2 separate regions of the Homo sapiens genome follow, and region 1 is linked to region 2. Evidence: fine-mapped expression QTL. A gene starts in region 2. The other region holds a variant in brackets. All regions are shown on one strand. Distances are from middle to middle.

What was found.
Region 1: its variant is fine-mapped to the expression of ACP1 in tibial nerve (GTEx, PIP 0.96).

What each region holds. Positions count from the first base shown.
Region 1 is chr2:127,890-143,882 of GRCh38, forward strand. No RefSeq gene overlaps it. Among named protein-coding and RNA genes, the nearest start is that of FAM110C, 89 kb to the left of the region's middle. The variant G/T (reference allele first, on the strand shown) is at 7,697.
Region 2 is chr2:253,778-269,177 of GRCh38, forward strand. ACP1 (acid phosphatase 1) reads left to right here and starts at 11,170. Exons shown (of 6, transcript NM_004300.4): 1 at 11,170-11,230. The coding sequence starts at 11,188. It overlaps SH3YL1 (SH3 and SYLF domain containing 1), which reads right to left and starts at 10,255. Exons shown (of 10, transcript NM_015677.4): 1 at 10,207-10,255. The coding sequence starts at 10,207. RefSeq lists silencers at 10,151-10,730, 10,801-10,880 and an enhancer at 11,231-11,280.

The DNA of each region.
Region 1 (15,993 bases), 130 kb before region 2:
AGGCTCCAGCTGATTGACAGACTTTTCTGAGGTCACATGGCAGCCATCAGGAGACAGCACGTGGATGCTCATCTAGAAATGTCAGGTTCCCAAGTCTGGGTTTTCTTTCATTCCCCATGCTGCCAGCTAGGACTTAGACACCCCTTAGAGTCAGGGATGCAAACAAGTATGTGGCATGGTAATTTTCTTGGTGCAACTTTAAAATAGCCTGGAAGAAGATAGATAAATATAGTCGAATGTTAAATAAACATGGGTGGTAGAATATAATGAAGAATCCGGTGAAATTTAATTTTGAGGAAATCACGTCACAGGGGCAGCAGAGGCCCTGGGGGCTCCACAGAGGAGTGAGGCTAGACCTCAAGCCCATGTGCGATGTGGACAGGGGAGCAGAGGCAGACCACGGGCTCCTCAGGAGCAAGGAGGAGGGCTCAGTCTAGCAGTTCCAGAGTGGTAAACGCATTGGCGTGGATCCAGAAAGTGCATGCTGAGAATTAGAGAAAATCTGAATAATATTGATCGGGGTCACAAATTAGCATCCCAAAGGCTAGGACCCAGAGATGTGATTGTCGTGGCCATACACTATGAACGTACAGCTTTTAACATTTGAATCTCCTTAAGCTGAATGTTCACTCTCCCCTTTGCCAGGGGCCCCACCAATCTTTTTCTCTTCTTCCCCTGGACAACCCACACATTACCTTACCTGCTTTGATACTGGGGGCATTTAATTATGTGATATTCCACAAACAATCTTGGCACATTAATATTAGTTGCCTTCAACAGCAACTCATAACAGTATAAAAAGATGATTTTGATGTAACTCCCTGAAGTCCTAAGAGTCATAATAATAACAATCTCTTATATTTAATTAATGTTTGTATATACAAAATATTTTTACTTATGTTATTTCATTTACAGTATACAAATTGGATTTTTCCTTCTTGTAAATTATTTGCCTAGGCCAATGTCCAGAAGACTTTTTCCTAGGTTTTCTTCTAGAATTTTTACGGTGTCAGGTCTTAGACTTAAGTCTTTAAAGCAGTTTGAGTTGATTTTTGTGTGTGGTGAGAGATAGAGATCAAGTTTCATTCTTCTACATGTGGCTATCTAGTTTTCCTAGCACCATTTATTGAATGAGGGTGTCCTTTTTCCAATTATTTCTATGTATGCTTTGTTGAGGATCAGTTGGTTCAAAGTTTTTGGCTTTATTTCTGGGGAGTCTATTTCTGTTCCATTGATTTATGTATCTACTTTCACACCAGTACCATGCTGTTTTGGTTACTATAGCCTTATAGTATAATTTGAAGTCAGATAATGTGATGCCTCCAGATTTGTTATTTTTACTTAGGTTTGCTTTGACTATTTGGGCTTTTTCTTGGTTCCATATGAATTTTGGGATTGTTTTTTCTAATTCTATGAAAAAATGACGTTAGTATTTTGATAGGAATTGCATCGAATCTGTAGATTGCTTTGGAAGTAAGGTCATTTCCATGATATTGATTCTTTCAATGCATGAGCATGGGATATATTTCCATTTGTTTCAATGCATGAGCATGGGATATATTTCCATTTGTTTGTGTCATCTCTGATTTCTTTCAGAAGTGTTTTGTAGCTGTCTTTGTAGAGCTTTGTCACCTCCTTTGTTGAGTATATTTCTAGGTTTTATTTGTTTTGCAGCTGCTGTAAAAGGGATTGAGTTCTTGATGAGATTCTCAGCTTGGTCACTGTTGATGCATAGCAGTGCTACTCATTTGTGTATATTAATTTTGTAACCTGAGACTTTAAAGAATTTATTTATCAAGCCTAGGAGTCTTTGGAGGAGTCTGTAGGGTTTTCTAGGTATATGATCATATCGTTGGCAAGCAGATAGTTTGACTTCCTTCTTTCCAATTTGGATCCCCTTTATTTCTTTCTCTTGCCTGATTGCTCTGCCTAGGGCTTCCGGAAGTTAGCCTTGATTTAAATTTTTCTCTATACTTCATTTTCTGTTCTTCACTAATATAGACCAATATATGGCTAAGAACCAGAAAATTAAAAAAAACATATTAAATTGGAGTAGATATATCAATTCTAGTCTTGCACTAAACACTCAATAAATGTTTCTTTATCAACTGAATAAATGAATAAATGGATAATGAACAAATAAATAAATGGTTATAAAGATGGTAGGATTTCAGCTAGACTTTTAAGGATTGACCTTTTATCAAGAAAATGAAAGGTATTCTAGGTCACAATGCCACAGTAAGTGAAGGCACAGCACCAAGAACAAAGAGTCCACAGACGTCTTTAGGAGGAGACTGATGCAAGACTTAGGAGATTCATTTAAGGAAACAGAAAATACCTATGAACAGGACATGTTTTTACCTTCTTGGAGGATATGAATCTGTGGCTAAAAGTTAAGGTTAGATAACTTTTTTGTAGACAGGAAAATCATTTCAAAATCATAAGACCTCTTATCTTCAAATGAAAATCAGGAGAAGTAGGCAGGCACAGTTGCAATCGAGGGTTGGGATATGGGAGGGTTTTACTTGGTCTATGTCCATTTCATTTTTTAGGAGAATAATTAATAAATTGTTCTAAACTCTTTAGTGCTGTTATTTGTGAGTGCTATATAGAGCAATATGGATGGTTAGCTAGATGCTGCTTACATTTCTGCATATTGTGGGCAGAACAAAGCTTTGCCGAGGATTGCTCAGGGAGTCATCCAAACACTTAGAACTCTGAAGTCTTAGGTTTCCTGCAAGTTGCAGTGTTGAGTTTCACCTAAATCAATGATTTGCCTTCGGAGTTTAAAAAAAGTGTCAATACTCAGGACCCACCCCAAAATAACTACATCAGAGTATCTGAAGAAGGAGTCTAAGCATTAGTGTTTTTTAAAGCTTTAGTGTGATTCTAATATGCAGCCAATTTGAGAACCATTGGTCTATGTGTTACAGAAACTACTTTTCAAAGGCAATGAGAGGCATCCAGTCAACATGTTATATTTTAGTCAAAATCTACAATGTAATTTGTATTTTCTGAGTCTCCTCTTGCTCTTTTTTTTTTTTTTTTTTTTTTTTTTTTTTGAGATAGGGTCTTGCTCTGTTGCCAAGGCTGGAGTGTAGTGGCATAATCCAGCTCACTGCAGCCTCAAACTCTCAGGCTCATCTGATCCTCCCACCTCAGCCTCCCAAGTAGCTGGGACCACAGGCATATGCGACTACACCTGGCTAATTTTTAGATTTTTTTGTAGAGATGGAATCTCTCTATGTTGCCCAGGCTAGTCTTGAACTCCTGGGATCAAGCAATTTTCCCTCCATGGCCTCCCAAAATGTTGCGGTTAAAGGCGTGAGCTACAGTGCATGGCCACCTTTTGTTTTTAGTTTAGAAGAGTAATCTGGATCAGGGACTGGTAATACTAAATCAATCTGATGGCTGGAGAGAGGCAAGTTTCAGGGACAATAGTGCTCATATGACCATAGTAACACTTGCTTAGCCATTTGTTGTTTCCACTGCATTGTAATATTTCTGTTTTCATTAATGCTCTAAAACATGTTTTTCTATCACAGGGATCCTATGCTTCTATTCACCTGGAATCACACTGATGCACAGACATCTGTGAATAGAAATTAAAGTTATTTGCTGAGGTATTCATGTTAAAAAAATGCATCTGGAACTGTGTAGCTTAAAGCTGCAGACGTGTCAACAACTACGCATGAAATGGAATGTTCCCACTGGGATCCACTCTTGATACATGACCATTATCTGTTCTTAACACTTTGCATCTTACTCTGACAATGTGATGCTAGGGTCAGGACTTGCTCAGTTGGACACTACAATGGATAATATTTAAGAGAAGAGGCGATCTGTTTCACATTAAGTTTTCAATAGAATTTGCACTTGGAATAAATGGTATCAAGACGAACCCTGTGCCATTGTTTACTCAATTTTCCTAGGGCTGGGCCATAGAATTACAAAGCAAGCCCTGCACCAAGCCTGCCAGGTTGTATATGGTGACATTGCAGGGGGAATTCTCAATGAGAAGCACACAGTGGTCTCACTTCCACCACTGAATGCCTCTCCCTTGGGCAATGCACCTAGTCTGCCTGGACTGAACATCTCACTATGTTTATCTTGTTGAGGAAGATAAATGGGTGTCAACTGGATTGAGGCATTGTTAGACTAGGGACCCCTGAGATGAGGACAGCAAGCAGAAATTGTGCCTCACACTGAGAAGTGCAAAGCGGCAGCAGGGGTTTTTAGTTGATTATGACAGCCATGATGCTTTGTCCTCATTGTAATTATCACAGTAAAGCGTTGCAGTTTCTTTAGTCTTTTGAGGAAGTGAGGGAGTTGAAACTTTCAATATTCATAATGTTGTAAAATCTCAAGTTTCCTATTCATGTATTTTATGTCTAAAATACACAAAACATAAAATACATGAATAGGAAAATCCTACTGTTACTTATTAGCTGTTTGGGGCAAACTTGATGGTGCCGAACAATGGAGGAGTCCATTTCAATCTTGGTTAGCAAGATTTCCCACAGAAAGGGGAGCAGTAACCCTACAGAGAAAAAGCGAGCCTTGAGGAGAGTGGATGGAACGTGCTTGGGATAGAGAGACACAGCTGGGGGCAGCACCTTCATTCACACAGCCAGCCATGGTGCCAGCCAGCACAGTGTGGAAGTAAAGAAATCTACAAGGAGACTCACAACCCAATGAACAGACTTTACTCAAGAGAGATGCCAGGGAGAGACTTTTAGCTCATTAGAAAACCAAATCTGCCAGGCGCGGTGGCTCGTGCCTGTAATCCCAGCACTTTGGGAGGCCAAGGCGAGGGGATCACCTGAAATCAGGAGTTCGAGACCAGCCTGACCAACATGGAGAAACCTCATCTCTACTAAAACTACAAAATTAGCTGGGCATGGTGGCACATGTCTGTAATCCCAGCTACTCAGGAGGCTGAGGCAGGTGAATCACACGAACCCAGGAGTCAGAGGTTGCAGTGAGCCAAGATCGCCCCATTGCACTCCAGCCTGGGCAACAAGAGTGAAACTCCATCTCATTCCTGAGCCAATCAGAGTAATAATTCCATGCCTTCTCATTTTGGTGGAAATCTAAAGTGGTTTGGATTTGATATAAAAACAGAAGATTTAACATTCCTATTCTTAACTCTTTCTACTTCCAAGTCCTTGAAATTATAGAAAAGATGTAATAAAATGATAATAATTAATGGCTGGGCATGATGACTCACATCTGTAACCCCAGGACTTTAGGAGGCTAAGGCAGGAGGATCACTTGAGCCCAGGACTTTGAGACCAGCTTGGGCAATACAGTGAGACCTTGTTTCTCCAAAAAGTTTTAAAAATTATCCTGGCATGGTGGCGTATGCCTGTAGTCCCAACCGCACAGGAGGCTTAGGTGGGAGGATCCACTGAACTCAGGAGGTGGTGGATGCAGTGAGCTGAGATCACTCAGTGCACTCCAGCCTGGGCAACAGGGTGAGACACTGTCACAAAAAAGGAAAAAAAAAAAAGACAAGAAAGAATGTAATCAGCAAAAAATTAGAAGAATTTCTGAAAGATAAAAAGCACACAGCATTTGATTTTAAAAGAAATATAGTGTAAGGAAAGAACAACTAAACAAAATGGATGTATCTTGTGATCCAAGGATTCCTACTCTTAGATATACCTACAAGAAAAGCACATATGCTGATGGCTCTATTATTAGAAACAGCAAAAATAGAAACCATTCAAATGTCCATTAACAGTGGAATGGAAAAATTATTATAAATTTGCACAGTAGAATACCGTACAAATGTTACTGGGAGGGGTGCAGGGTCTGTGGCTCTTGCCTTCTTGGAAGAAAGAATTCAGCCAAGAGATGCACAGCAAGGGTTAAGCAGCAGAGTTTCTTGAGGGAAGATAGAGGACAGTTCAAGAAGGGAGTGGGCTGGCCTGACTGGAAAGCAGCGGCAGCAGCGAGGTTTATTTAAAGGGAGAGCACACACTGAATGACAAGGCAGAGCAGGTTGCTGGAGAGAGGGAGTGAGCCAGCAGCAGCCAGTGCTGGGGACTCTCTTTATGAGGATCTTACATGATTATTCATGAAGGGATGTGAGGGGCTGTCACTTGCAATCATGTATTAGGTGGTTCCACATGCTCTATGGCTGTACATGCTAGTACACACATGAAATGTCTCATTAGCATTTAAAACCTCCACCTAGGGGTGTGTTTTTTATAATTGTAATGGGCAAAGTCTACTGCAGGGTGAGTTACTGGAGGAGTGAGCATGCTTGCCAATGGGAAAAGTCTCTACCATGGTTGTCTCCAGCTAGAGCCTGAGGAGTCCCCCTTAGGGCTGGAGGAACCCAACCACAACATAAAAGTAGCCAGTGTAAACTACTACCACACACAACAACGTGGCTGAATCTCACAAAAGTAAGATTGAGGGAAACCAGTCAGGAAAGAAAGGACAATTATGATTCCATTTATACACAGTGCAAAAACTTGGCAGCACTAATATATTCTAACCGGAATGGTATTGTCTTCAGGAAACTGGAAGTGTGGGAGGTAACTGTGAAGAGGAAAAATAGGGTTTCTGGGTACTGGGAAATATTCTGTTTCTTGATCTTGGTTGTACTTAAAGATGTTTCACTTAGTGATATTTCACTGAGCTGTACACTCAGCGTAATATGATTTGTGCGTGTCATATGTGTATATTATACTTCAATAAAAATAGCATTTAAAAAACACAACTCTGAACAGCACAACTGATTGGATATAGAGAGTGATTAGTAACCTGAAAGATTTTGGTTGAGAGGAAAGATTATCCAGAAAGCAGTGCAAACAGATGGAAAGGATGAGAAAAAAGTGTAAAGCCAGTACGTAAAGATGCAGTAATTCTACATAAAAAAAAGATTTCTAGGAAACGTGGGAAAGTGAATTTAATCTAATATTGCTGAGGCATGTTAAAGGGTGTGATTAATCGTATGTGCTAAATCACTCATTGGAAGTACTAGTAAAGAATTAGTTGGAAAATAATTGCAAAGTAAGCTCAATGGAATTATTGGTGCAAACTGAATATCTTCTGACTGTTTACTAAAAGAAGGGTGATGTATAACAACCGTAGGTTTTATTCATATAAATGAGCTGAAAATTCACAGTAGCTTTGTAACTACTTGCTGGATAACTGCATACATTCAGGGATTTTTTTCCCCAATAATAAAAACTTTTACTCATAATCACCAAAACTTAGATGGAACCAAGATGTCCTTCAGTAGATTAATGGATAAATATACTGTGGTACATCCAGACAATGGAATATTGTTCATCAGTAAAAAGGAAGGAGCTATCGAGCTATGGAGGAAACTTACATGCTACTACATGAAAGAAGCCAATCTGAAAAGGCTACATGTTGTAGAATTCCAACTCTGTGACACTCTGGAAAATGCAAAACTATGGAGACTGTGAAAATATCAGTGGTTTCTAGAAATTGGGTGAAGGCGGGGATGAATAGGCCGAGTGCAGAGGATTTTTAGGGCAGTGAAACTATTCCATATGATGCTATGATGGTGGAAACGTGTCATCGTACATGTGTCAAAACACATAGAATACACAGTAACAAGAATGAGCACTAATATAAACTATGGACTTTAGGTGATTAATGAGGTGGCAATGCAGGCTCATCAATTGTAAGAAAATGCACCACTCTAGTGGGT[G/T]ATGTTGATAATGGGGGTGGGAGTGTTACACACAGGTGGGGCTAAGAGTATATGGGACATCTCTGTACCTTCTGCTCAATTTTGCTGTGAACCTAAAACTGCTCTAAGAAATAAAGCCTACTGATATGGTTTGAATCTCTGTCCCCACCCAAAACTCACATTGAATTGTAATCCCCAGTGTGGGAGGTAGGGCCTGGTGGAAGGTGATCGGATCATGGGGACGGCGTTCTCATGAATGGTTTAGTACATCCCCTTGGTACTGTACAGTGAGTGAGTTCTCATGAGATCTGGTTATTTAAAAGTGTTTAGCACCCTCCTCCCTTCCTCCTGCTCTGCCATGTAGATGTGCCTGCTTCCTCTTCACCTTCTGCCATGACTAGAAGCTTCTTGAGTCCTCCCCAGATGCCACTGTGCTTCCTGTACAGCCTGCAGAACCGTGAGCCAATTAAATCTCTTCTTTACAGACTGGGCGTGGTGGCTCACACCTGTAATCCCAGCACTTTGGGAGGCTGAGGCAGGCGAATCACTTGAGGCCAGGAGTTCAAGACCAGCCTGGACATCATGGCAAAACCCCGTCTCTACTAAAAACACTAAAATTAACCAGGTGTAGTGGCGCACGCCTTTAGCTATTTGAGTGGCTGAGGCATGAGAATCTCTTGAACCTGGGAAGTGAAGGCTGCAGTGAGCTATGATGCTGAGATCACACCACTGAACTCCAGCCTGGGCAACACAGCTAGACTGTTTCAAAAAAAAGAAAAAAAATCTTCTTTATAAATTACCCAGTTTCAGGTATTTCTTTATAGCAATGTGAGCATGGACTAATAGTCTACTAAAAAGAAAAAAGGTTATTCTACACAAAGTGGTATGTTCCTCTGGGTAGAGATTTCCCTTTTTTTCCTCCCAAAAATTTGGTTATAAGGATGGGATCCCTCAACTAAGCCCTCCACTGGGCACATTTCTTGGAGTATTTGTAGCCATCTTTAATCAAATAAGGGACTATTTGCTAAAAAGTGTTTCTTCAACTACTTTGGTTCAGTGGAATTGGGTTCCCAGGGAAAATCCCAAACTCTCACTAGAAGTTTTGAGTTACCATTGAGTAAAATTGGTAATGTGGCTGAAAGGCCCTGTGTGGTTTGCTGTTGGCTTTAATGGTAAAATGTTCTGAAAACTCTGGAATGCTGTCAGCGGGTCCCTCTCCTGGAAGGCGTGCTTCACTCTGCCATGCCGGGCTCCAGGAGGATAACTGCTTGCTGCTCCAGCAACTCAGGCTGCTTGCTGTGCCTGGAATGCTCAGCATGAGGGGCCACCGAGGGCAGTTCCTGAAGCCTCTCCACTGAAGGTGGACTGGGAGAAGCCACAGTGCCACGCTTCTTAGCCACATGAGGCCCGTGAGTTTTCACCAGCTGTTCACCTTTCCTAAGTCCAAGGCATGTCTCAGGGGGTCCGGGCTCCTGATCCTCTCCACTTCTGTGGCAGCTTTGTTGCAGAGAATTCAAGAGAGCAAATAAGGGAAAATGTAGTTGGGTGGCAAGAATAATTTCTCACGTTTTGAGGGAAGTAGCCCAAGTTTGGGAAAATATGGAGAAAGATAAAGAAGACAAAAAAATAGCCCTTAAGATTTCCCAGTTAGAATTATTCACAAAGGGAATAAACCCTTATCTGGGGCCACCACCAGACAAGAAGGAACCCCGTAATGGAAAGTCAATATGTTACTGTTGTAAGAAATCAGGACAGTGGAGGAAAAATGAATGCTAAACGAGGGTCAAGAAGAGTTGAGAGATACAAGCTAACTCTAAAGCTTTACCGTCATCTCCAAGAGATTTTTGCCTAAGGAAATTGGACAAAAAGTAATTGGAAAATTGTGGAAAGTAACCTCAGAGCTGAGGGTGGGAGGCATTTATGTGTCTCTTTCTTTTCCCACTTTAAGCTTGTCCTGATCTTTCTTGTGAACACTGAAGGCACACACTCCACAATTTCTACAGACGGTTATCATTTTACGTCAACCTAGGAAAACATCCAACTTTTGGGTACCTCTAGACAACCTTCTCCCTGTTCTTTCTTCTCTGAGGTTTCTCAACAAGTAGATTCTCCATACTGTAGATGGAGTGTTTTCAGAGCTCCCAGGAGGCAAGGAGTTGGTAAATAAGCACTTTCTAAAATAAAAGAACTATCATTATCTATTTGTTCATCAAATAGATACTTAGGTTTTTCCCATATCTTGACTATTGTGAATAATGCTGCAATGAACTGAGACTGCCGACATTTTCACAAGGTCACTTTCTCTGACTATATGCCCAGAGGAGAGATTGCTAGGCCATAATGTAGTTCTTTTTAAAATTTCCTTAGGAGCCTCCATACTGTTTTGCATAATGGCTGTGGCAATCTACATTTCCACTAACAGAGTACAAGCATCCCCTTTTCTACATACCCTCACCAACACTTATTATCTCCTGACTTTTTGATAGTAGCCATGCTTACAGATGTGAGACATTTCACAGTGGCTTTAATTCACATTTTCCTGGTGACTGATAACATTGAGCACATTTTCATATACCTGTTGGCCACTTTTAACGTCTTCTTTGGAGAAGTGGCTATGTAGGTCCCTTGTCCATTTTTTTAATTCGGTTGTTTGTTTTTTTAATATGGAATTGTATGAGTTCTTTATAAATATTGGATTTTGTTTCCAAATCTGTAGGTTGCCATTTTATTTTGTTGATTGTGTTTTTTGCTGTTCAGCCTTTAAAAAGAAGGAGATCTTGCCATTTGCCACAACATGCATGAACCTGGAGGACACTATGCAAAGTGAAACAAGCCAGACAAAGAATGAAAAATATTCCATGATCTCACTTACATATTGAATCTTTTAAAAAAACAGGTAAACAAAGACAGCGAATGAAACAGGGTTACCAGGGGGACTGGAGAGGGTGGGGGATGGGAAGATATAGGTCAGAAGGTACAAAGTAGCAGGTGTGTGGGATAAACAAGTCCAGAGATCTCATGTACAACATGAGGACTAGTGTTAAAAAAAATTGTGCTGTATTTGGAATTCCTGATAAATGAGTTGATTTTAGTTGCTATTACCACAAAACAAAAACAAAAACAAAAATGGGTAACTATGTGAGATGATGGATGTGTTAATCTGCTTCACTATAATAACCATTTTACTGTATATATGTATATATATGTATCTTAAAGCATCATGTTTTACATCTTAAATATACACAATAAAATTTATTTTAAAAATTAAAATAAAATAAAAGCATCTCAAATTAGAAGGGCTCAAGGAACAAATAATATGGGTTAGTAAAAGAAATTGAATCCTGCTCTGGTTTGAATGTTTGTGTCCCCTTCAAAATGTGTGTTGAAGCTTCATTTCCGATGTCGAGGTTTTAAGAGGCGGGACCTTTAGGAGGTGATGAGGTGATAAGGCTCCTCCCTCACGATAGAATTAAGGCCCTTGTGAAAGAAGCTTCACACAGCATTCCACCTTTTTGCCCTTCTGGCCCTACCACCATGTGAGGATGAAGCACTCGTCCCCTCTGAGGACACAGCGCTTGTCATGGTGCCACCTTGGAAGCAGAGAGCAGTTTCACCAGGTTCTGACCTTGCCAAGCCTTGATCTCAGACTCCCAGTCTCCAGGACTGTGAGAAATAAATTCCTACTATTTATAAATTACCAAGGTTCAGGTATTTGGTTATAGCAGCACAAACAGATGGAGATCATCCCCTTTTCACAGCTTAAAACAAAACAAAAACATTATGGACATGTGTAAATCAACATCCTCTCATTCTAGCTCAAATACAAGGAATAAAAAACTCAGAGAGTTAGAAAAACAGAGCATAGTCAAGAGAGGCGCATTTTCCTTTTTATATTCCCAAATTACCTGGGAAAAAGAATGAAAACTGGGCAAGAAATTGCCCGTAGATTTGTACAAGCTCTGCGAGAAATACGTGAGGTTGAGGCTGCTCTGATTCCTATTGTTCCATATGGGGCTGCATTCTGCGTCTTTTCTGTACTTTTCACTGAGGTACCAGGCTCTTCTTTGAGTGCCCCTGGAATCTTCTTTCTTCCGCATTTGTGGTGACGGATCCTCAGATTTGCCTGCTATACTTTCTAGACATTCACAAGAGAACTAAGAGAACTTTTCCCCACCTTTAATTCATACTAATTCAACATGTGAGCGATTTATTAATAGCTGTTAACACTGTATGTGCTTACAAACAAGATACTTTCAATTTAATAAAAATTTTGCTTCTCTAAATAAATTGCAGTATTATCAAAGTGAAGTCAGGAATTTGGGACATTTGTTTTAGGCTGGCAGATGAAAACCGGTTCTATCCTGAAGTCAGCCTATCTTAAGCACACACTATCTAACACATATACACAAACTCTGCCAGTTTGGGGGTTGTTTGGGGGTTCAGACTACGGGTCCTTTCCTATTCTGAAAAAGCTAAGCCTCTTGCTATGATGTCACATGAGGAGTTCACCAGAACTTTACTGTGGTCTAAATAAGCTGAAGAAGTCTTCCAGATCCTAAGGAAGCCTTGTTTCCCCATCTGTGCTGGGTGCCTACCCGAGATGACATTTCAAACGTCTTTTCTGTTAGAGAACAAGGGAGAGGCTAGAGGTGTGGCTACTTTGAATCAGACCCTGACCACAGGCCCTTCTCTGTTGCTCTGGGGACACCAGAGTGTCGATGAGCTGTAACAGCAGCTGCCTCCAGACTGCAAAGGCTCTTACTTGGACTCTAGGATATTTAGCTTACACTTAACGCAAAGGGCTACTGCTACTTTACGAGTCCTTGCAAGTCTGTAAGACACCATACTCACCGGTGCACCGCCAGACTAGTTATGCACTAGTCTATCGAATTGCACTCCAGGCAGAAGGAACTGTTTGAATCTGACCTTTCTGTTGCCGGATGCTGGCCACGTTTTGCTACAGCACAAGGTGCTCAGTCTGGGTCTGATTCGGCTGATATTCCTGGTCCCAATGCTGACTCAACAGTGCTCAGTGACTGGTCTCGTGCGAGACACATGGGGAGGTTTAAGTTCTCTCAAATGTAAAATCAGCTCAGGTGCCAGAACCCGAAGCTGTTATGCAAACTGCATAATTGGCCATTGTCTTACGAAGGGAGAATGTCTAATTGATGGCTAATATGCATTGGGGGTCTGTCGTGTCACGGGCCAAATTTGGAAGAATAGAGGCTTTCTAATATCAATGAGAACTAAAATATCACTTGGGAAACGAACTGCTGTCTTACTAGAGTCACTGCCATTGTCTTTACAGATTTCTGTAATGCACTGTAGACTGCATTACAGACCTAACAAGATGAAACATATAAAGGAAGTAAAAAGGGCTAATAAAGTTTGAACTGCGGAAGTCGAAGCCCCGTTACTGCTGCAGAGGAACTCCTATTCGCTGTTTCAGCAACAAACAACCCTCCAAGACTTAGAAAATAAGAAAGAAAGAAAATGGGGTGTCCTCAATAGGATTATTCCTGTCCCCCAGTTGTACGATTGAGTGGATTTTTCATGCCATCAGCAAGCTCATTTGAACAAAAGAATACTCTGAAAACCTTGGAATTCTACTACATTTGCTATAGGGTCAAATAGTTCAGGAAATGACACAAAGGTGTGCTGTTTGTCAGCAAAGTTATTTGTGGGAAACACCCAAGTTAAGTCGAAGAAGCCCGCTGAGGCCAACATGATCTGAGAACTGGACAAACATGGACTTTACAGAAGTTGTGCCCTCGGAAGTTAAGAATTATTGTTTAGCAGGGATGTGTATGATGCCTGGATGGCCGGAGGGCGTTCACGTGCTAAAGCAAATGCTCAAACAATGATCATATCATTACTGAATTTTATCATTCTAACCTTTGGGATTCCAGAACATGTAAAATCCAGTAGATAAGCCATTTGGTTTCTACGGGGCTAATTTAGGGGCTCTTTAAAACACTACAGAGGTCTTTAAATTATTATACTCTTTATTATCACCAAGCTCCTGGGCTGGTAGAATGACTAAACCACAGTGTATTAGTCCATTCTCACATTGCAATAAAGAACTACCTGAGACTGGGCAATTTATAAAGAAAATAGGTTTAATTGGCTCATGGTTCTTCAGGCTGTACAGGAAGCATGCTGAGGGGGAGGCCTCAGGAAGCTCACAATCATGTCAGAAGGCGAAGGGCAAGCTGGAACATCTTACTTGGCTGGAGAAGGAGGAAGAAAGGGAAGCATGAGGTGCTACACACGCTGGAGAAGGAGGAAGAAAGGGAAGCATGAGGTGCTACACACTTTTAAACAACCAGATCTCGTGAGCACTCACACACTACCATGACAACAGCCAGGGGGAAATTCACCTTCATGATCCAATTGCCTCCCACCAGGCCCCTCGTCCAACACTGGGAATTACAATTTGACATGAGATTTGGACGGGGACACAAATCCAAACCATATCACACACCCTAAAGAATTATTTGGTTAACTTACACCAAACCAATGGCTTATTCGAGTGTTGTTACTGGTCCTGTTAAAAATAAGATCAACTCCTAGCAAGCATGCTATTTCGCCTTTGGAGTTAACATCTAGTGACCTATGAATTCAGGATTTAAGTTCACTGCTTACCTATAAAGGAAAACACCATAGATGTACTACTTAACTGGGTTGCCATCTTTCTAGGCTTATTCTGCCATCACGTGGCAGATGCTGGAAAAGTCCCCAAGGAGACGTGCTATCAATTTTGACCAGAAAAAAGCTACATAGAGTTCCAGTGACAAGACTGGATGATCATTGTGCTAAGAAAGACCCCGCCAGGGGTGGATCAGGAGGTCAGGAGATCGAGACCATCCTGGCTAACACGGTGAAACCCCGTCTCTGCTAAAAATACAAAAAAAATTAGCCGGGCCTGGTGGTGGGCACCTGTAATCCCAGCTACTCAGGAGGCTGAGGCAGGAGAATGGCGTGAACCTGGGAGGCGGAGCTTGCAGTGAGCCGAGATAGCGCCACTGCAGTCCAGCCTGGATGACAGAGTGATACTCCGTCTCAAAACCAAAAAAAGAAAGACCCCGCCAGGTGTTGCTGATAACTCGCCCACCATCACAGTGAAGGAGAAGCTCGGCTTCACGAGAGCTTCGCCTGTGACCGCACCTGTGACTGAAATGGCCGTGACTCCTGGTAAGGACTCGAGGTTGAATCCCCAGACAGTAACGTCCAGGTCAAGGGTTTATAACTAAGAATAATCACAATACTATAAAACAAGGGGTACACTGAAAAACATAGAATCTAGTTATGAAAACTAATAAAAATAAGCATTAAATATCTTTCAGATTATGAGTTTTAAAAATGAGACAGCATCCTGTAAATAGTTTAATGATAAACCATAAACTGGAACAATCTATCAGAAAAGCAAAGCAGCAATATAGATTTGAACTATTGAAAAGTTTATATTCTTTGGCTTTAAATATCTTTATAAATACATTTAAAACAAATTTATATTTATTATATGAATACATTTATTAAATACAGATAATAAAACTTGTTTAATCCTAAACGAGTCCTGTTCAGAATTCCTTCCTTATTTTGTCATGCTTTAAGGCCCATGAAAAGCTTAGGCAAAACTCTGGGTGGGCTTTTGTTACATTCCAGCCTTTGTGAAAGGGCACTGGCTTTTTTAGCTTTTAATATTTAACTTAACCACTCAGTCAGTACTGAAACAGTTGTGAAGGAGGCCTGCATTAGTGAGACCTGGCCCGCCACAATCCCCACTGTCAATTTGCACATGATTTCTACCATGCTTGTATATTTATTTATCACGAGAATCGTAGGGAGATGGGGCATTGTAATCTTCCTGGCTGCTTCCTGCTGAGAGGGGGTCGTCGTGATGGGGCACTGTGTGCAGCACTGGAGTGGGAGAGGTCGATTTCTTCCCAGCGGCACTCTCTGTTTCAGGAGCTTAGCGGCAGCGCCTGCTGAAACGTAATAGTATGCAACAGTAACACATGTAAACAGGTTGTTGCTGTTTTCTTCTGAGGTTTAAGTTGTCTAGTCTTCAGTTCACAGGGCTTTATGAAAGCACAGCTTAGGTTTCCGTGATTTCCAATCAGGAAAAATGGGGAAAAAGGAAAAAACTGAAAACATTATTTTGGAGACCTGTAGCCAGAAAAATTAGAATTTAATCTCAACCATAGAAAATAATAAAAACTGGAAAACATCAGGCAAGACTAGAATTTAGCAAGAAGTGTACTATAGTTTCTGAAACATAATTTTTATCTCTCCAGTTTCCCATTTTTATTAAAAGA
Region 2 (15,400 bases):
CAGGTCCAAGAACCCTTTCTTGGGGTCTGGATCGGGACCCCTTTTTGGTAACACAATGAAGCATTACCACAGCATAGCCTATCAAAGGAAATGACTGGAAATCCTCATTGACAGTATCATCTCTATTTCTCCTAATAAATCAAATCTATGCTGAGAGTCAGAAACTCTAAACTCTCATCTCAGAAATTATAAAATCCTTGGGCCCCAAAGGATGTTAAACAAAACCTGGCCAAACCTCCCTGTTATGTATCTTCTTCCTGCAATTAACAGACTTCAATACTAATTTAAAATAAGAATTTAAAATTTAAAAATATATTTTGTAACTATCTATAATATATAGTATAAATTTAATATATTTTGTTGTTCTTGCCAAAAATGTTGGAACTGGCTGCCTGTAGACTTTCTGATGAGTAAAACTCTAGGAAGACTTGGGAATTGAGCCTACAAGTAACGCCGGCCTGCATTTCTATGGCACTTTACGTTTACAGTGTTGCCTGGACATTCATACACTCATCAGAGGGCTTGTCATAACAAAGCTCACATAATTCTTCCAGCTCTGAAGTATATCGAGAAGATAGACTATTCTCTTGTTACTGGACGAGGGATCAGCAGAGCGAAGAAGCTGAATAGCTTCAGTGTAGGACCACAAGTGCCCTGAGGCTGAGAAGTTCTTGTCTCACTGTCTACAATTAGGAGGCACATGCGTGACTGACTGCAGGATGCCAGGATCTGGAAGGTTGAAGGCATTCATTTCCACTGTTTCGCCTCAGTAATTTACAGAACAGAGATGAAGTACGCTAATGGAAGCTTGCTTTTGTAAAAGGAAAATAAATCTCAGGACCCCAGAATCACTGAGCCAAGGGAAAAGTCAAGCTGGGAACTCTGTGAGGCAAACCTGCCTCCCATTTTATTCCTAAAAAGATAGCTACAAAGGTAAGAAGCTACACACCTCCCTCACAATTTGATCACAAGGAAATTCCCTGTGGACAACAGATGGAACTCAGACTCATCCCTCTGCTCACGTGAGACAAATGCATATCTGATTGTTTCCTTTGCCCTGTTGTTTCACTAAGCCAGACTACAGCCTAAGTGACTATTCCTGTAAATCACAAAGGCTAATCAGACACTCAAAAGAATGCAACTGTTTGTCTTCTATCTATTTATGATCAGGAAGCCCCCTACCCACTTCAAGTTGTCCCGCCTTTCTGGATCTAATCAATCTTACATATATTGATTGATGTCTCATGTCTCCCTAAAATTTATAAAACCAAACTATACTCAAATCGCCTTGAGCACGTCATCAGGACCTCCTGAGGCTGTGTCATGGGCTGTCCTTAACCTTGACAAAATAAACTTTTAAAATTGATTAAAACCTGTGTCAGAGCTCATGTATAAACTCATGGTTTATTCTTTCGACAGATCAAATGCTGAAACAGCAGAGAAAAAAATCCCTTTCTTTTATTCAGCAAAATATAAATATCTCCAATAAAATGTGATATATTTTGGTGCCTGGAATGTTTGAAACATGTAATTTATCTTAAAAGTGAAAACTGGCTGGGTACTCCCAGCACTTTGGGAGGCCAAGGGAGGAGGATCACTTGAGGCCAGGAGTTCGAGACCAGCCTGGGCAACATAGTGAGACCCCCATCTCTACCAATAAAATGATTTAAAAAATTAGCCAGTCATGGTCCTTGCTGAAGTCCTTGCTACCCAGGAGGCGGAGGCAGGAAGATCACTTGAACTCAGGAGATCAAGGCTGCAGTGAGCTATGACTGGGCTACTGCACTCCAGCCTGGGCAACAGGGCAAAGCCCTGCCTCAAAATAAAATAAAATTTTAAAAAGTGAAAACTGACTTAGGGTCATTTTGGAGTTCTATTTAAATTTCTTTAAAAGATGTCAGTATCAGTTCTTTGTGGCTCAACACAGGAGTATTAACAAGATCCAGACCAGGAAAAAAATCCATCCCAAGATTCATCAATGGTATTAAGTCAGATAGAGGAAGGTATTTCCACAGATACTTTATGCAAAATTAAGTGTGCATGATGCATGTGTGTAGCTCTTTACTCCTTTTAAAAACAAGTGGCATCACAGCATTAGTGTATTTTGGCATGTTGCATTTTTTAATCAATGTTATCTCAGAATAGTTAAAATACTGCCTCTCAGTGTAGGCTTTTCAAATCAACTTCATGAGATACAATTTACAAAATGAAATCTACCTGTTACAGGTATAGCTCAGTGTGCATGGACAGAGGTAGAGACCACTCCTGATCACAGCATCCGTGCCCTCTGTAGTGGTCACTCCTATACCCAGCCCCTGCCTCAGGTTAGTGCCAATCTGATTTCTGTCATTAAGTATGAATTTTGTCTGTGCCAGAACTTCATATAGTCATCAGTGTGTGTTCTTTTCTGTCTAGCTTATTTTACTCACCATGAAATTACTGAGACTCAAATTGCTGCACAGATCAGCTCTTCCTTTTTGACTGCCAACTGGTATTCTAATGTGTGGACATAGCACAATTTGTCCTTCCAGTCACTGTTGATAGACAATTGGGTTGTTTCCAGCTTTTGGCTATTACAAATAAAACTGCTATAAATATTCCTTTGTAAGCCTTTTGTAAAAAAATGTTTTATGGCCGGACACGGTGGCTCACACCTGTAATCCCAGCAATTTGGGAGGCCGAGGTGGGGGGATCACCTGAGGTCAGGAGTTCAAGACCAGCCTGGCTAACATGGTGAAACCCCATTTCTACTAAAAATACAAAAAATTAGCCAGATGTGGTGACGTGCGCCTGTAATCCCAGCTACTCAGGAGCCTGAGGCAGGAGAATCACTTGAACCTGGAAGGTGGAGGTTGCAGTGAGCCGAGATGGCGCCATTGCACTCCAGCTTGGGCAGCAAGAACGAAACTCCATCTCAAAAAAAAGAAAAAGAAAAAATGTTTTATTTCTCTTGGGTAATTACCTAGGATAGGAATTGCCAGTTCATGTGGTAAATGTGTATTTAACAATGTAAGGAGCCACCTAAGAGTTCTCTAAAGTGATTACACATTTCAGGCTTCCACCAGAAACTTTTATAAGAGTTCTGGTTATTCCATATCCTCACCAACACTTGCAATGTCCAGTTTTTAAAATTTTAGTTATTTTAGTGGTACACAGTGGCCTTTCACTGTGGATTTAATTTTCGTTTCTCAGATGACTAATGATGTTGAACACTTTTTCCTATTTCTATATCTTGTAAAGTGTCTGCTTAAATCTTTTGTCCACGTCCTTTAACCACTTATTATTATTATTATACTTTAACGGAGTTGTTTTTTTGCTTGTTAATTTGTTTAAATTTCTTATAGATTCTGAATATTAGGCCTTTGTTGGATGTAGAGCTTACAAATATTTTCTTCTATTCTGTAGGTTGTTTTCTCTGTTGATAGTTTCTTTTGCTGTTCAGAAGCTCTTTAGTTTAAGTAGGTCCCATTTGTCAATTTTTGTTTTTGTTGTAATTGCTTTTGGCATCTTTATCATAAAATCTTTGCCAGCGATTATGTCCACAATGGAATTTCCTAGCTTATCTTCCAGAGTTTTTACAGCTTTAGGTTTTACATTGTTAAAACAGGCTAAATGTGACCTGAGAAGAACTCCATACTTCAATATTTGAGTCCTTGTAGATGAACTGCCACCTAACTTAATATGTAGACAAGATTGAGAACTTAACTTAGGAGTATGCATCTGTAACAATAGCTCAGTCTTGGCCAATCCCAGCAGCCATACTTCAACCACTCATACACTGCTAAGTGTTCACATAAGGAAAATGATGAGCTGTAACCAATCCAGTTGTTTCTGTACTTCATTTCTGATTTCTGTACGTCACTTCCCCTTTTTTGGTCTATAAATTTGTTCTGACCACGAGGCATCCCTGGAGTCTCTCTGAATCTGCTGTGATTCTGGGGGCTGCCCGACTTGCATATCATTCATTGCTCAATTAAACTCCTTAAAATTTAATTTGGCTTAAGTTTTTAACAACATTCAAGTCTTTAATCCATCTTGAATTGTTTTTTTGCATATGGTATAAGGAAGGGGTCCTGTTTCAGTCTTCTGTGTATGGCTGGCCAGGTATTCCAGCACCATTTATTGAATATGGAGTCCTTTCCCCATTGCTTATTTTTGTTGACTTTGTCAAATATCAGATGATTGTAGCTGTGTAGCATGAATTCTGGGCTCTCGATTCTGTTCATTGTTCTATGAGTCTGTTTTTGTACCATTACCATGCTGTTTTCATTACTGTAGCTTTGTAGTATAGTTTGAAGTCGGGTAGCATGATTCCTCCAGCTGTTCTTTTTGCTTAGGATTGCCTTGGCTATTTGGGCTCTTTCTTGGTTCCATATGAATTTTAAAATAGTTTTGTTTTCTAATTCTGTGAAGAATGATATTGGTAGTATAATAGGAATAGTATTGAATCTATAAATTGCTCTAGGCAGTATGGCAATTTTAATAATGTTGATTCTTCCTATCCTTGAACAAGGAATGTTTTTCCATGTTTGTGCCATCTCTGATTTCTTTCAGCAGTGCTTTGTAATTCTTGTTGTAGAGATCTTTCACCTCCTTGGTTAGCTGTATTCTTAGGTATTTTATTCTTTTTGTGTAAAATAGGTGTTTTAAATTGTATAATCTGCCATTTCTCGATCTGTTTTTGACTGATTCTTCTTCCAGCTATGGGTTATGTTTTCCTGTTTTTACTCCTTTCTAGTAAAACAGGATTGTAGATATTACCATGTTGAGTGCCTAGATTTCATTGCTTCCCTTAAAAGTGTTAACACTTGTGTTAGCAGGCAGTGAGTTACTTGTAGATCAGCTTGATCACTTGTTGGCTTGTTGTTGTGTTCTGTTTGTGTGTCTAGAGTAGCCTTTAGAACTATTTTATCCATCAAGGTGTGTCCCTTCTGGGCTCTCTCCTGGGTGCCCTGGTTGTTTAATAAGCTGTCTCCATTGTGGCTGTTTCGAATGGCTGTCCCCAGCCTGATGCAAGCACTGTGAATAGTTCACCTCAAAGCTTCATGGCAGTTGTTCTTGCCTGCTTTGCAAATTTCACCCTACACAGCTAGCACTTAATATTCAGCAGAAGGCTCAGGGGGATCCCTCTGCAGATTTCTGGAGCTCTTTCTCTCAGCCGTCCCTCATTGCTAGTAACATGCTCTGCAAATTCCAGTTACCTCAGCCTCTTCAGACTCAATTTCTGCCTCTTCTTTTAAGCAGGAGCCTGGGCTCTGGGTGCCCCCTCCTTGTCCTGCAGTTTAGGAAGTGCTCCAGGCAGAAAACGGTCACTAATGGAGTTCACCTCCTGTTCCCCTTATCTTGTGGATCTCAGACATGTCCACCATGTGCAAAAAGTGCTCTACACACAGCTGTCCAGTTTCCTAGCTGTTTACCATGTGTGAGTAGCAGGAGCCATTTCGCTGCCCTGGCCAGTAGCTCTCAGTGCATTTTCCATTTGTTCTTTTATGATGAGCAATGCTGACCACATTTCACTCTCTCTATCAAAGGTTTCTCATGCACCTTGTTATTTACAGGGGGTTTCTCTCTGTTTCTTATTAATTTATACATTAAAAATTAATATTTTTTTGGAATATGAGTTAAAAACATTGACTCTCTGTTACTTGTCTTTTGAATTTGCTTTTTTTTCTGTTTTTTCTTAATGAAATCAAATCTGTCTTCTATCTTACAAGGGTCTTTTAATAAAACACAGTAATTTTGAAGTTCAAATGGGAAAATAAACAAGCAAGAAGAGCTAGGAAAAAATATGTAATAGGAGAACAATGACAGCCCAGCCTTGACAGAACCTGTGACACATTACAAAGCCTCAATAATTAATACATAATAGCAGATGCAAATATAGGAGAAAAATCAATTCACAAAGAAGAAAATTCAGAAATTAACCCAAATATATTTACAAATTTAGTATATAATAAAAATGACACCTCAATTCTATGTTGAAATGATGTATTGCATACTAGATAATGTTCATTTGGGGAGAAAAACAAAAATTCATTCACAGCTTTGTGTTACAGAAAGATAAACTCCAAATTCATTGAAGATTTAGAGTGTCAAATATCAAATTATAAAAGAACCAGGAATTATAGAATTTTTTTTCAATTTCATAGTGGAAAAGACCCAAGTATGGCAACAAAATTTCTATATTTCTATATTTTTACATGATCAGCAATTATTTGTACAACGTACAAATACATTGTAAAATACAGGAAAAAGTACAGATATGAAAATATGAAGGATAAAAAGCATCTATAACATTAATACTCACCAATACTACTGTCTGCATTTTGATGTATGCTTCAATTGATTCCTATTGCGAAACATGTAGACTGATTCCACTTTTAGCTTTTATAGCCATTACTATCAGGTGGTAATTATCTTGGGAGAGATGCTCTAGATGCTCAATATGTTTTAATTACATTTATACATATATCTAGATGCTGGATACATTTGAATTAGTTCACTGGAGTGGAAACTTGTTCTTTCTGCTGCTGAATATTTCATCTACTTTATTTCAGAGGCAGCACAACTTGTCTGCTTACATTGATGCTGCAGCCATAGTATCTGGAGTGGATTGGGTGACCCGAGGCTGCTGTATCAGGACGACATTCCTTTTGGTGCCACAGCAGGGCTTTATAACCAAAGCTGGTCCAATACCAGCATCTGATGGGGGACTTGTATAGGAGCTGCCAGAATAACTTTTTCCAAGGCACTTCTGTTTCCACTTGCTGTGGGATTTTTGTCTCCACAAGGGGAGAGTCTGAGAGCAAAGCCTTCATAGGGGAACCTGGCAGAAGGTGGAGAGAGCACCTGGGCTCTGCAAAGCCAGACTGAAGTCACAAGCCGCTCTGGACTTCTTCGTCAAATGGACCAGCAACATCTTTTTCTGTTAAAGCAATTTAGACTAGATTTTCTGATACATGCAACTGAAGCACTGTAAATAATACATGAATCTTATCCCCTCAGAAGACTTTCTACTTTGAACTCTCTCAACCAAGCAGTATTAGAGCAAATAAGCAAATTCCTCAGTTGAGAGTTAATCTTGCAAACATCCTGCTGTAGGGAAAGGTCATGGCCTGATCTGTAAACACGGGAAGAGAGCCATTGGACTTGGGAATCAGATGCAGCCTCACACGGCTGCAGACCGCAAGACTCATCCTAGACACAGCTTATGTCACTGTGATCCAGCTGTTGACAAGGCTGGTCACAGTGAGGACATCTTCAGTGTGTCAGCTGAACTACAGAAAATGTTACAGATTCTAATCAACTTCTGATAAAATCATGCGTGGTCATAGTTACATGCAGTGAATTTCTCTGTCAGAACAAAAAGAATATGCAAATAAAAATTTAGACATAAGCCTCAAATCCCATCCTCAGCATCAAATGATGGCTCACCCATTTTTCCTCTGCTGTACCATAAGGCATATAGAGCATGACCTGATCAGAGTGCTGATGTCCCATTCTATCATACTGATGAAGACACAGGTCATTACTAATGAAGCCTCTTAAACCTCACATCATGGTTAGCATCTGCACTCTCATAAACGTCTTAAGTCCCTTGAATCAGGCAAAATCTCTATAAATATTTAAGTTTTTTCTAAAAAAAGAGTGGCTGCCAAACCTCAAGCTAAGAAACTTTCAAATAAAGTTTTCTTTAAAACAAAAGTTAAAATGTTTTAAATTTTCATAGTAACACATTTTTTTTTTAAATTAGAAGGTCTTATAAAATACCGGAAAGACAATTTTTACTTTGGAAACCTCAAAAGCATAAATCAGCTTAAGATCTGGAAATAATTTTAGGTATTGATCGCAGTTCTATAAACTCAATGCTAGAGTCACTGGGGACAAACAGGGACATGAGAATCCTACTCGGAGTAAATTGCCACCTGAGGTGACAAAGCTGACTACGGTTTCCAATCTAGTTGTACACGGAGGGTCAGGAATGAAAGCAAGAAGACCCAAGGGCCCCTCTCCACCACTTTCCTTACCAGAGTTCAGATTCCCAAACTTTTGCTTCCCTTATATTATTTTCTTCAATGGACTCTAATTATGAAAGGAATACTTACAGGAAAGCAAGCTTACTAAATTTGGTTTTCCAAGTTCTTACTGATTACATATTAATCAAATTATTAAACCTTATACTTTATGTGAAATGGAGGTTAACTCATTAAACTGATAAAATTCCATCTAAGATCAAAGGAACTTGAATGCTGCTAAAGGTATATTTAGAATAAACTAAAGAAATCTTAGCCAAAAGAAAGTGTATGTATCTAATCTTTAGAGAGGCTTTCAAATGTTGCTTTAAGCTACTTTTATTAACAAAACTGCATTTTGAACTCCACTGCTTGACAACTATGGCCTTTGTTTCTTAAGTCAATTCTTACCTTTCTGGGGCCTTGGTTTAACTACTTCCTTTGTTTTAAGGACACAAAGCTTGTCAGTTCTCAAAATAAAAACCTGTCTCTCTGGTCAGATCATTAACTCCCTAGTCAAACTTTCAGACTACCGTCTGAACATCAAGTGCTAGCCTGAGCTTGTTTCCAGTCCCCCAACCCCAGGCTGTGGCTGGGGAAGGAAGAGGACAGCGAAAGCTTTCTCTGCTCCCTCGGGAGACAGGAAAGCCCTTTATTTATTCCTGCCCTTCCTCTTCTCCAACTGAAGAGTGTGATCTTGGTACAGAGCAGTTCCACACATGCCACACTGGTCTGATCTTTTAGAGTAAAAAATGGGATCTTCTCAGAGAAAATTTTTTTAAAAACTTCATGTGCTTAGGTCTCAGAGCAGAGAATTTTGTCTTATCATGACGCCACTCACTGGCAAACAAGCTGGCGTGCACAGGGACTTGTGAGGCTCTCAGCAGAGTCAGGGTAGCAGTTATTTCCCTTTGACTGCCTCAACTTCCTATGTTTGTGTTGACATGCCAGATCCTTATTTCTGCGGAATGAGAAATCTCTTGAGAATAAAGTTTTCCTAAACAGAACAAAAGTATCAAATCACTTTTGATGAGCAAACATTATTTTAAACTTTTTTTTAACTTACAAAAGATGAGGGGTAACATTTACTAGTTTTACAGAAATTTTCTTTAAACAGAACATTAGTGAACCAAATAACCAATTCTCCTCAAACATGATAGACAGGATGGAGGTTATCACTTTGATCATTTTAACCTCCAACATAGTAATTTGTAAACATCAGTCGCTGCACAAGTATTTTAATAACAGGCCAGCCCACGGGAGTAAACAGCACCTTAGCCTCGAGACCTGTTCTCTCAACTGTGTGTACAGATTTTCTAAGTCGTTATGAATTCAGATATTCCCTACATCTCAATAAAAACACCTAGGAGAACAAGAAATCAGGACATGCATCTCCTGTAAGCAGAAGAGAAACCGAGCACCTGCTCTCTTGCGGGGGGGCAGCTTCGTGTCACTTTCCAACTCAGCCTCCACAGGAGCATGGGCATATTGGTTCAAATGAAGTGTAAAGGACACATCTCTGTCCACAGTGTAAATCCTATTTCCTTAAGGTGGTCAACCGATTGAGACCAGTTCCACACTTCCTTAAAGAAGGAAAAACTCAGCAGCCAGCGCCAAGGCCCAGCGATCAGAGAGGACCCGTGCTCGCCGCGACCCCGCGCTCGCCCTGTGGCCCCGCGACCCCGGCGCCAGGTGTTGGGGGGACCGGCCCTTCCCTTCCGGGTGTGAGGGGCTGGCCCTTCTCTTCCAGGTTGGGGGGCTGGCAAACTCGAACCTCGCCGGCGCCCTAGCCAAGGCCTCCTCCCCGCGCCTGCCGCGGGTTCCACGCACATTCCAAGCGCGCGCATTCGACCCAAACTTCAGAGACGCTTCTGTGGAACGGAAGGATGGTCGCTGACACCTCGCCGTTCAAATATCAGGAAGTTAAAAATAACACGACCATCGTCATCATTCCAAACTTCGGAATAGCTTTTCTAAAAATGGAAAAGACGGTGGCTAAACTTCAATCAAAATCGCTGTGGTCAAGAAAGTCCTGGAAGCTGCTCTATCTTAACTTTGGGCGGTTTGCGGTTAACAGACGCGCGACCTAGAAACCCCAGAGGCATCGCCGGTTTTCCCGTCCTCCTCCTCCCACCACCGCCCAGCTCTTGAGAGGGGAGGGTGCTGCCGGACAGGTGGGTCCCCGGGTACTCACTGCTGCCCGCCCGGCCGCGGCGCCCCGTCCCGAGGCTGCCCAGGAAGAGGAAGGCGCGCTGCCCCGCCCCGCGGACAAGGAGGCCCCAGCGAGGGCGTACCTGCGGCAGGTGACGAAGGAGGCGGCGCAAAACACCCGCCGTGTACGTTTCGCGGGACAAAAACCACGCGCCCGCCGGGCCGCGCTCAGGCCTTCGCCCTCAGGGACTTCGGAACCGCCCCGTCCTCAAGATCGAAAAGCCCAGAGCCCCGCGGCGGCTCCAAGCACGGTGTTGGGGGTGGGGGTCTCAGGGAGCGCCCAGGCCCAAGGCCGCCCTGGTCCGGCGTGGACCCCGCGGGGCTCAAGGCAGGTTCCCCGCGTGACCCGCCCAGCCCCTCTATGCGAACTCGAACGACAGGCACCACAGCCCGCCACGTGCGCGAGACTCGCGCTGTGCCCCAACCCAGGTGGGCGGCCCGCGGAGCCGCGAGGCCTGAGCCCGCCCTGCAGGTGACCCGCGGCCCTTCCTCCTCCAGGTACCCCTCTCCTGCGGCCCCGTCCCCTATAGGTAACCTTTACCTCCCGCGGCTCCTTCCCCTCCAAGCGACCCGCAGCCCCGCCCCCTCCAGGTGACTCCCCCCCGCCAACCCCCGCCACCACACACACACACCCCCTCGCCTTCCGCGGCCCTACTCCCTCCAGGTGACCCCACCCCCGCAGCTCCTCCTCCTCCGGACAACCTGCAGCCCCGCCCCTGCAGGTGAACGGCGGCCCAGTCCCTGCAGGTGACCCGCGGACCCTCCCCGCCCGTCCTACTACCGTCATAGGACCGCCTCCGCAGGCGCACTGGAGCCGATTGCGCAGGCGTGGCTCTCACACGCGCTGCCCTGTTGGCGTTGGTGCGGGACTGCGCAGGCGCGCGGGGCAAGAGGGTGGCAGTGCGCCTGCGCCGCGTCGGCGTGCGGAACGCCGCGGTGTCTCGGCGCCTCTGCGCGCGGGAAGATGGCGGAACAGGCTACCAAGTCCGTGCTGTTTGTGTGTCTGGGTAAGAGGGCGCCGACTTACTCATGTTCTGACGTCCTCTGGAGAGTTGGATCGGGCTTGTGCGCTGTAGGTTGTGCCGCCGGCCTAGGAACCATGAGGGGGAGGAGGCCAGGGACTGGGAGGCCTAGGGTGTTCTAGGAGTGTGCCGCAGCGCCCCTGTTCCCCATCCGCCCCGTGCACCCGCCCAGCCTGCCCGCTAAACCTGGGTCCCCTCGCGCCTGCCATATATCCGGGGCTCTTGGCATCTGCAGCCACAGCCCCTACAAGCCAAGGTACTTTCTTTGCGACTACTAGAATCCCTCTCGTTCCCCTCCAATGGGCCCAGGTAGGCCTGGAGGTTGTCGGACTGATGTGGTCTCTTAGGGGCCTCCTGAGTCCTATGACAACATTGTTTTGTTTGCTAGTTTCCTTAGCCCATGCTTAGATAGGGATCTGAGTTAAAGGGAGATGAAGTTTTACGGTTTCGGGTTTCTTGATTGTAAAAGCCAAGCAAAGGAGACCTGGAGGTCCCTATATAACTTTGGCCCATGAAAAATGAAAGTGTATTTTATTAATGGCTTTTCAGGAACTTTCCAGCTTAAATTATTTTCACTCCTAGAATTTCAACACTTAGCTTGCCTTACTTCAAACATAATTTATTTTCCGTTTGGTCTTCAGGGATCTTCCTTTGGTGTAGCACTACAAGGTTATATTCCTCGGTGCCTCCACCCTGAGAGGAAGGCCTAAATTGTCAGTAGTCCGGTTACTTAAAACCTTCTGTGAGTTTGCATTTCCTGCAGTTTCTGTTTATTTTTACAGACTCCTCACTTTATCTCCTGTACCTTTTCCTGCTCACACCCTCGGGACACTGCCTTCCAGAACCTTTCGTTGTTCGGTAGCACTTCACATGCTTACTGAGCCTTCATCGCTGGGTGCCCATTATGCATTTTGCCTGGAAAGCCTTTTTATTTTATAAAGTCAAACCTAAATATTTCCTCCTTTGCTTTCCCAGATCATGAGTTGCTTCCTTATCGACATCTTTTATTACACAAATTTTACTATAATTTGTGTAATATAGTAAAAGATGTAATACAGAAAAGGTGTGATTCCTTATCGACATCTTTTATTACACAAATTTTACTATAATTATTTGATAGTCTGTTGAAATCCCAGCTGAGTTTAATTTTGTCGATGGCAATAACTGTGGCTTATTTTTCATTTTGTTTTCAGCTTTAGGACAATATATGATAAACGCTGACTAGGTTTTGTAGAAGTTAACTTCTGTGAAAGACGAATTAGAAGGCTTACCTTGTTTCACATTGGTAGTGGGCATCATTTGATTTTTAAGACTCATTGAAGGCTGAATGATGAAATCAATAAGTTTATTAAACAGTAGTTTGGTTAAGGATGGTTACTAAATAATATTCCATTCCCTTGTATAGTTTTGGTTGGTATTGTCGATTATGCTGGCATAATGCATCATGGTTGCTGTTAATGGGGAAGTGTATCCTTGCATATACAGTAGTCCCACTTTAGCTGTAGGGGATACATTCCAAGACTCCCCAGTGGATCCCGAAACTGTGGGTAGTACCAAACCCAATTGCTGTCAATTGGAACATGTGTCTGCTCGTTTCTTACACCCACAAATGTAATACCGTTGCCACCTTAACTAAGCATTTAAAACTGTGGTCGCAACTTTTGCAGTTTGAGGCAAGACAGCAGACGATCAGGAATTTCTTTTTCCTTGTTTACATTTTCATGGATAGAAGATTTGTTCGTACTGTAGATCTTAGTAACCTCGGTATAAGTTTTTTTTTTCTTTCCATAAGAAGTCAAAAACTTTCACCTTTTTACTTAAGGGTAGTGCTTATGGCTTCTCTTTGCCGTATCTGAATTGCTAGCTTCACTACTCTTATGATTTCGGGCCATTATTAGTAAACTAAGGGTGACTCGAACTCAGGCACTGTGATAGCATCACAATGGATCTGATAAGCTAGAGGGCAATAGGTGGATAGACAGCATGGATATGCTGGACAAAGACGTGTTTCACTTCTGGGGCAGGACGGAATGGGATGGCATGAGAATTTATCCTGCTACTCAGAACAGTGCACAATTTAAAACTTAGGAATTATTTGTGGAATTCTTCATTTAATATTTTCCAACTGAAGCTGACCATGGGGTAACCATGGAAAGCAAAACCTTGGAAAAGAGGGGACTATTGTATTTCAATACAATTCAGTGATTTTTTGTTGTTGTTGAGCATCTACTATATGGCATGCATTCCTCTAAGTGGTGTGGTGAACACAACAGACAAAAATCCCAGCCTCTCTGGAGCTCACGTTCTCTCAGTCACCAGCAAGTATTAATTGATGTGCTCAATCGGTTGATGTGAAGATTAAGAAAAATAGAGCAGAAAAGGGGAATGGGAGTGGAGTGCAGTTTTGAGTGGGATGGTCAGGGAAGGCCCCACCTGATAGATGACTTTTGAGTAAAGACTTGAAGGAGGTGAGGAAGCAAGCCTAGGATATTTTGGAGAAGCATCCTGAACCCAGAGGAAAGCAGGTAAAAGTTTTGAAGGGAGAATACTGGCCATGGTCATGAACCGCAGGGAAGCTGCAGTGGCTGGGCCTAGTGGCCAGATAGTTTTTCTCAGTCAGGATTCCTCATCTATACCTGAAAATTTAGCAGATAATTTGAGCGCCTGTTTTCTCAGTGCTTCCATTGTAGATGTATAGGGAGAAGTTAATTCCTTATATACACTGGTCCTTTAGGGCAGGAGTCTGCAAACTCTTTGTTTAAAGAACCAGATTATAATTATTTTAGATTGGCTTCACATGACATACAGAAAGGGTGTAGCACAAAGTAGCCATCCATATGATGAACCTGGCTGTGTTCTAGTGGATCTTCATTTGTGGACATCAGAATTGGATGGAACTCTGTATAATTTTCACATGTCACAAGGTACTCTACTTTTAGATTTTTTCCAACTACTCAACAATGTAAAAATTATTCTTACCGCTGTGGGCTGTACATAAAGGCAGTGGACCATGAGCCGATTTTCAGACCCCTGTTTTAGGTCCAGATCTTGGGAGGCCATGTGAAGACTTGGGCTTACTCTGAATAAACATTGGAGGGTTTTGAGCAGAGGTGGGAAGTGATCAAATTTAAGTTTAAAAAAGAAGAGTTTCAGCTGTTGTTTTGAGATGAAACTGGAGGTGGAGCATGCCTTTACTGGTTGCATTCTGAGGGAATTTGAGCGGTAAATGGCATTTTACTTGGTAGCCATATAGAGGACAGTAAGAGTTGTATGCTTTTGAAATGTAAAAAACTTTGTTCATTCAAAGCATTTGTTTGGACCCTATTGAGATTGAAGTGTAGAAAAGCATCAGAGGTTTTTCATTGGTGAAGCTAATGATGGAAAATAATTGAGCTCCTTACTACAGCACAATTATGAAGGGTGCTTTATGTTTTTGCAATAGAGACTTATTAGTGAAGATGATGCAGGAGCCATGACCCAGCCAGCATGGTTGGTGGAGATAGCACATGCTGGTGGAGTCACTTTACTTCTGGGCTACACCCATACTGGGTGCTGGGTCTCTTACCAGGTATAGCAGACACAGCCCCACCCTCCCAGAGCCTATCTGCCTTTTATGAGTCTCCATCCTTGAATTGAAGATGCTGAAGAAGGGTATAAAATAGTCTGCCTAATTTGGAAAAGACAAACTTGAGACTTTACAGATTGAAACATTTTTTAAAGGCATTTGAAGATGGAATGTTCTGTTTTTAGAACTTGTTTGATAGGCGAAACCTGAAGTACATGCAGTGTTTCACTGATGACCGGGGTGCTCCATTTTTTCATAACAAAATTTGGTGGCATCAACTTTCGAAATCAACAGGGCAAGCTACTGCTAGCCTTTAGGACAGTTAATAATGCAAGTTTTCATATTGTTGTGGGGAAAGTAAGCTGTTATTTTACAGTTAAAGATAATTATTTGTAAACGTGTGGGGCTAGTCTTTATTATATTTTTAGATGCTGAGATACTAGGCATCTGTTGTTCTACAGATCCAAAATAATAATTGTCTTAATTTGGAATACAATGTTTGCTGTTAAAAATATTCCCAGGGTATATGGTGACAAGTAAAAGAGTTACACACCCATGGGAAGCCTTTCAATAATTAAAATAGTGCTGAT